2 linked regions of the Homo sapiens genome follow. The protein of the gene in region 2 purifies or fractionates together with the protein of the main gene of each other region. This does not show direct contact. Each region holds a gene or a part of one and is shown on either strand. Other genes may lie near its edges.

Evidence for each region. The genes of interacting proteins can lie anywhere in the genome.
Region 1: the proteins of NLRC4 (region 2) and NOD2 purify together in Homo sapiens (affinity purification with western blotting, with the first as the bait; 2 studies listed by BioGRID). This does not show direct contact.

What each region holds. Positions count from the first base shown.
Region 1 is NC_000016.10:50,728,106-50,731,605, forward strand, and holds part of NOD2 (nucleotide-binding oligomerization domain-containing protein 2), read left to right. Parts: exon of another isoform or gene 1-345; intron 346-907; exon of another isoform or gene 908-1,045; intron 1,046-1,712; coding exon 1,713-1,796; exon of another isoform or gene 1,797-1,848; intron 1,849-3,500. UniProt on the Homo sapiens protein: Pattern recognition receptor (PRR) that detects bacterial peptidoglycan fragments and other danger signals and plays an important role in gastrointestinal immunity.
Region 2 is NC_000002.12:32,233,887-32,237,386, reverse strand, and holds part of NLRC4 (NLR family CARD domain-containing protein 4), read left to right. Parts: intron 1-1,047; coding exon 1,048-1,140; intron 1,141-1,818; coding exon 1,819-1,986; intron 1,987-3,500.

The DNA of each region.
Region 1 (3,500 bases), on a different chromosome or scaffold from region 2:
ACACTTATCGAGGTTTTTCACCTTTCCAATTTGCTTCAAATGCTGAATGACCATGGAATGGTCGATGTTGAGTTCTCAAGTAGTTGTAAGAAAATCAGCTTTGATGATTGCTCTCAATTGGTCATTGTCAGCTTCTGATGGCCTGCCAGTACACTCCTCATCTTCAAGGCTCTTATCTCCTTCGCAAAACTTCTTGAACCACCACTGCACTATACGTTAGTTAGCAGTTCCTGGGCCAAATGCATTGCTGATGTTGTGAGTTGTCTCCGCTGCTTTACAACCCATTTTGAATTCAAATAAGAAAATTGCTTGAATTTGCTTTTTGTCTAACATCATTTTCATAGTCTAAAATAAATATAAAATAAACAGAAAGTATTAAGTCATTAGCAAAAAATCATAAAGTGAGAATTGTGCATTAAAATGATGTATAGCATAACCACATTTATTTAAGAATGTATTCCAATATCAAATGGCAAATTTCAACAATGCAAAAACTGCAATTACTTTTGCACCAATCTAATAGAAGTTCAATAAATACTGGCAATTACAATTGGCATTGCCTTAGGGTCAACTTGTAAGACATTCCTGAAATTGTGGGAAAGGGGGAGGACCTGGAGTGGACATTATTGGAAGGCAAAGCTGTAACCAAAAGAGCAACCTGGGAAACACATGACTCCTCTGTTGCTGTCCCTGGCCCTATCCTGTCTCCCCTCCCTGTTGTCAGCTACCTCATATGTTCTCTAATCTCTGTCTCTGTGCCCTCAAAGACCCCCCTGAAAATAGAAATATTACTGCTCATTGGTTATTTTCTATCAATTAAGTACTGTATTAGTCCGTTTTCATGCTGATGATAAAGATATACCCAAGACTGGGCACTTTATGAAAGAAAGAGTTTTATTGAACTTACAGTTCCACGTGGCTGGGGAGGTCTCACAATCATGGCTGAAGGTGAAAGGCACATCTCACATGGCAGCAGACAGGAGAAGAGGGCTTGTTCAGGGAAACTCCCCTTTTTAAAACCATCAGATATCATGAAACTTATTTACTGTAATGAGAACAGGATGGGATTCAATTACCTTCCACTGGGTCGCTCCCACAACACGTGGGAATTCAAGAGATTTGGGTGGGGACACAGCCAAACCATATCAAGTACTGTGCAAGTGTTTTAGGCATGCAGAGAGTGGTGGGTCTTCCCAGCAAGCAGAGTGTGGGGAGGTAATGGGGGACTGGTGGCTGACTTAATGGCCCAGGACCCATGCCACAAGGAGATGGATGGTGGATGTGAATAGGAGCCTGCTTACACCCATCACAATTTAGATTCTTATGCTCGATGGCACGGGTACTCTTTTAGGCCCATTTTACCAATGAGGAGATTGGGACTAATTTGCTCGAGATCAAAAAAGAAGTGGTGTAGGTGGGATTTAAACCCAGGATGTCTAGCACTAAAATGCAGGTACTTAACCACTATCCTAAGGGAGTGGCTACTTAATTTGATAAACTCATCTAGTGAATGGAAGAGAGACGGTTACATTTCACTGATGGTACTGAGCCTTTGTTGATGAGCTCATTGGGAATCTCAGACATGAGCAGGATGTGTCTAAGGGACAGGTGGGCTTCAGTAGACTGGCTAACTCCTGCAGTCTCTTTAACTGGACAGTTTCAAGAGGAAAACCAAGAATCCTTGAAGCTCACCATTGTATCTTCTTTTCCAGGTTGTCCAATAACTGCATCACCTACCTAGGGGCAGAAGCCCTCCTGCAGGCCCTTGAAAGGAATGACACCATCCTGGAAGTCTGGTAAGGCCCCTGGGCAGGCCTGTTTTAGCTCTCCGAACCTCAGTTTTTCTATCTGTAAAATGGGGTGACGGGAGAGAGGAATGGCAGAATTTTGAGGATCCCTTCTGATTCTGACATTCAGTGAGAATGATTCTGCATGTGAAGGATCTGATTCTCTGTCTAAGAAAGAAGTCTTTACCTCTTTAAGTAGGGAGCAATGATTTCATTTTTAAACCTTGACTATTTATTCAGCAACTTCTCTGCTCTATGAGATAGTGTAGGAATGGGGATGTGGTTGAAGAATGAAAAGAAAAGTCAGCTCCCGCCCTCCTAGAAATTGCATCTGCCTTCACAGGTCAAGGATATTGGATCAGACCTTCTGCGGTTCTGAATGGAGATTACACAGGTTAGGAGCAGGTTGCACAGTGTTTCCAATTCTCTATAATTAAAGCCATAGACTTTCATGTATTGAAAAAAGCAAGAATTGCATTCTTGACAGATTCTTTCATTGCCTTAAAAAGAATGACTAGCCTTGGGAGTCTGGGCAGCTGGGTCCAGTGTTGTAGACTTTCTCTCTGCTGAGCCACAGCTTCAAAGATTTGTCCTTCTTGTTTCCAGGGATCTATTTCTCAGACAATAAGTAAAGGCTTTCCCTGGCCTAATGTGCTGTAAGTGAATGCTACTATATATGTTCCAGGCACTGGGCTAGAGACTAATATTTAAAAGCCAGGAAATTTCCTATAGAAAATCTATATCTCAGGGTTTTCTCAAAAGAGCTGGGAACTCTGGATGCCCATTCATGATTCCAGTAGTTAACCAGAGTACAAGAAGGGCTGAGTCTTCTCAGATGGGCAAACCCACTCTGGCTGACTGCAGATCCACCAAGCCTATTGTCTTAGACCAGGACCCTTTGGCAACTCATTCCCATAAGCCTGTGACCCTTGCTTTAAATATGCAGGCCTTGTCTTCTCTCAAAAAGCACATCAAGGCTGCAGCGAATGCAGATATCAAATGATGAAGTTAAAAACAAAAGCTTTGCTGGGCGTGGCAGCTCACACCTGTAATCCTAGCACTTTGGGAGGCTGAGGCAGGAGGATCACTTTAGGCCAGAGGTTCAACACCAGACCTTGTCTCTCAAAAAATAAAAAATTCAGCTGGGTGCGGTGTAGTTCCTAGCCACTTGGGAGGCTGGGATGGAAGGATCCCTTGAACCCAGGAGTTCAAGGCTGCAGTGGGCCATGATTGCATCACTGCACAGGCGACAGAATTAGATCCCATCTCTTAAAAAAATAAAAAATTTAAAAGTGACTTCAAAAATCTATGCTGTGATGGAGAGATTTTTCCTTCTGTATGATTGTGATAGCTCTGTGGCCTATGACGTCATCAGGTTCTGGGCAAAGTGTAGGTTTTCTGTTTCTTTGTTTTTGAAACCATTGCACAGTCCTAAGAAACATCACATTCTGGGTCCTGGGCACCAGCCAACATGAGGTTGATATTTTAAGGGGTCTGATGTTATTTGCTGCCTGTTGATGGAACTTGGGAGGGCACCAGGGTTTGCTCATTGCATTCTTGACAGATTCTCTTATTGCCTTAAAAAGAATCACTGGCCTTGGGGAGTCTGTGGCTGGCTGGGTGCAGTGTTGTGGACTCTCTCTGCAGAGTCATGGAGCCTTGTTCAGAATGCTTCCTGAGCTGCCCTGGTTGGCCAAGGGTAAAAACAGCCCT
Region 2 (3,500 bases):
GACAGGCTTAGAACTGCAAATAGCAAACGTACTCTTTTAAAGAGAAGTTCAGCAGGTTTTTTATTGTAGAGCACAAAACCCAGAAGATACTTTAAGAAAAGGGCTCATATGATTGATTAAAAATAATAATAGCCAATATTATAACAAGAGTACATATTCATGAAAAACTTGTCTGATTTTTTTAAAAAGGAGATTTTTCTAGCCCTGACAGAAAAAACTTCAGCTAGATTAAGCAAGAGTGATAATATGTGAAGAAAAGCACTAAGCAATTCTTAGCTAGACTGGTACTATTATATAATTAATGTTTGCATGCAAAATAGTTTTCCATTACCTCAACATATTTGTGTCTTTGTCATTCAAACACGTCTTTTGTACACAGCATAAAACTGGGTCTTGCTTTAAAAAAAGTTCTGAATATCTGATTATCTCTGCCTTTTAATTGGAGTGTTTAGTCCATTAAGATTTAATGTAATTGTTGATATGGATAAATTTGAATCTGCCATTTTGCTATTTGTTTTTTTTCTCATCCATTTTTTACTATGTTTTTATTATTAATATCTCAACTATTATGTCAATAAAATCATCTAAGTTGAGGTACACAAAACCAGCTCATTTCATTTTTGTTGTTGTTGTTGTTCCTGTTTCTCCTGCATGATTAACGGCATTTTATAATTGAAGCAACTTTACATTTTATCTGGTCCAACTACCTCATTCTATAGAGGAAGACATTGAGGCTTAGAGAGACCAAGTGATTTTTCCATGATGACATAACAACTACATCCCATGCTGCTTTAGGTTCTACGTGACCTGGAATTCATTAATCAGAACCTAGGACCAATGACTATTTGCCCATTTGGTCATAACCATGGGATTTGGGGGTTACACCTACACCAGAGCCTTTGGAAATAATTAAAATAACCAAGGCAAGTTATGGTTTGCACTACCATTAGCAGAGAAGATAAAACTCAGAATTATTCTAAGGATACTTCAAAATACATTTATATTTACCTGAAAATCTTTTTATTTTGGATTACTTTTTTTCCCCAGCTCAGAATCTTCACAATTTGGTCAAACTGAGCATTCTTGATTTATCAGAAAATTACCTGGAAAAAGATGGAAATGAAGCTCTTCATGAACTGAGTAAGAATGACAATTCAGCCAAAATTAGATACTTGAATATGTATACTGGGTAGTCGAAATACATAGCCTGGGTCCTGAGGTCTTTTATACCCATGTGTGCCTTACTAGATGCACCCTCCTTAGGAAAATCATTTAGGCCTTTCTTAAACTGCCCTTAAGGAACACAGGCCCATGTCTTTTAAGTCACCAGTTTACATATGCTCACTGCACTTTGAGGCGGTATCCCACCTGCTTTCCTCCTTTGAAGAGGCAACTGTCAAGAGTAGCCGATGTGCAAGACAAATTTGCTTAAGGAATTGGTGATATGATTTTTTAGGTGTGATAGTGATATGTGATTATGGTTAAAAGAAAAAAAAGGAAAGAACTGATTCATATTGTCCATGATTTGCTTTAGAATAATACAGGAGGAATTAGGTCAGGATTAAGCAAGATTGCCCATGATTTAATGTTTTTGAAGGTGTCTTATTAGTATATATAGTTTCATTATATTCTTCTGCATAATGTTTGTATATGCTTGAATACTTTCCAAAAAAAAACCAAAAATTAAGTAGATTCTCATTACAGATTGAGTAGGCTGCAGAGCCACCAAACATAAAGATCATTCCTCCCCTAACACCCCTTTGTTCTTCCTCAGTTTTGAGACCATCCAGTCCCTGAACTGCTCTTTGTTTCTTCCAGTCGACAGGATGAACGTGCTAGAACAGCTCACCGCACTGATGCTGCCCTGGGGCTGTGACGTGCAAGGCAGCCTGAGCAGCCTGTTGAAACATTTGGAGGAGGTCCCACAACTCGTCAAGCTTGGGTTGAAAAACTGGAGACTCACAGATACAGAGATTAGAATTTTAGGTAGGTACACACATACAGAGCCAAGATAACTGGATTTGGCCCTTAAAAAATTCTTAAGTTGGCTTTGCTTATTTTGCCCCCTTATTTTATTTTGCTTCCTCTTTTTTTTAAAATATAAATATGTCTAATGAATTCATTCACGTTAGAGTAAGAAGACTTAAAACACTGGCCTTCCTTCAGATTCTATTTCCTTTACCTACAGAATTAAATGAAAAGCATTCACAGTATCCAACAAGATGTATTATATTAGTCATAGCTCTTACTAGCCTTAACTTTCTGAAATTCAGCAATGCCCCTCCCTCCAATATCAGGAAATATTTTCAAGTTACTTACTGGGTATTCAAAACATATAAAGGCGAATGTAGCTGTATCTAAATAGAGCCACAAAATATCTTTAAATAGCTGTAATATTATCCAGAAACAAATAGATCTATATAAATGACTGAAGACACCACCAACCTCAGGCAGTTGATGAAAGAAGCCTTCATACTATCTGTATTAGTTTTCAATTCCTGTATAACATATGGCCTCAAAACATAATGGCTTAAAACAATAACCATTATCTCACAGTTTCTGTGGTTCAGGAATTTAGGAGTTTAGCAGGTTAGCTCTGGCTTGACCTCTCTCATGAGAGGGGCTGCTGGAGGATCTCCTTCCAAGGTAGCTTCTCACATGGTTGGCAAGTTAACACTGGCTGTTGGCTGGAGGCCTCACTTCCTCATCATTAGACCTCTTCACAGGCTGTGAGTGTCCTCACAACATGGCAGCCCACTCATTTCTGGTCACTTCTGACATATCCCACTGGTTGCACAAGTTATTCCAATCCAGCGTATGGAAACATTAATACAAGGAGGTCAGGCTCATCAGGTTCAACTTGGAAGCTATCATACTAAAGCCAAGGACTTGTGAAAACAGCCTCGATTGCCTTCATTTCTCTTACAGATTGTCTAAAATGTGTTTAGTTTACGTAACGTACAATTTATTAAACTGTTTTTGTTCTTTGTTTTTTGTTTTTTTTTTAGACAGAGTCTTGCTCTGTCGCCCAGGCTGGAGTGCAGTTGCGCAATCTTAGCTCACTGCACACTCCACCTCCCTAGTTCATGCCATTCTCCTGCCTCAGCCTCCCGAGGAGCTGGGACCACAGGCGCCAGCCACCACGCCTAATTTTTTTTTTTGTATTTTTAGTAGAGATGGAGTTTCACCGTGTTAGCCAGAATGGTCTTGAACTCTTGACCTCGTGATCCGCCTGCCCTGGCCTCCCAAAGTGCTGGGATTAAAGGCTTGAGCCACCGCACCCGGCCCTATTTAAACTGTTTTTAAGTGTAAAAGCTTTGTGGCATTAAGTACATTCATATTATTGTGCCACTATCACAACATCCATCTCCAGAGCTTCTTCATCTTCCCATATATACACACACATATATATGTCCCCAACACTGGAGAACCTAGATATATAAAGCAAATATTGTTAGAGCTAAAGAGAGAGATAGAACCCAATACAACAATAGCTGGAG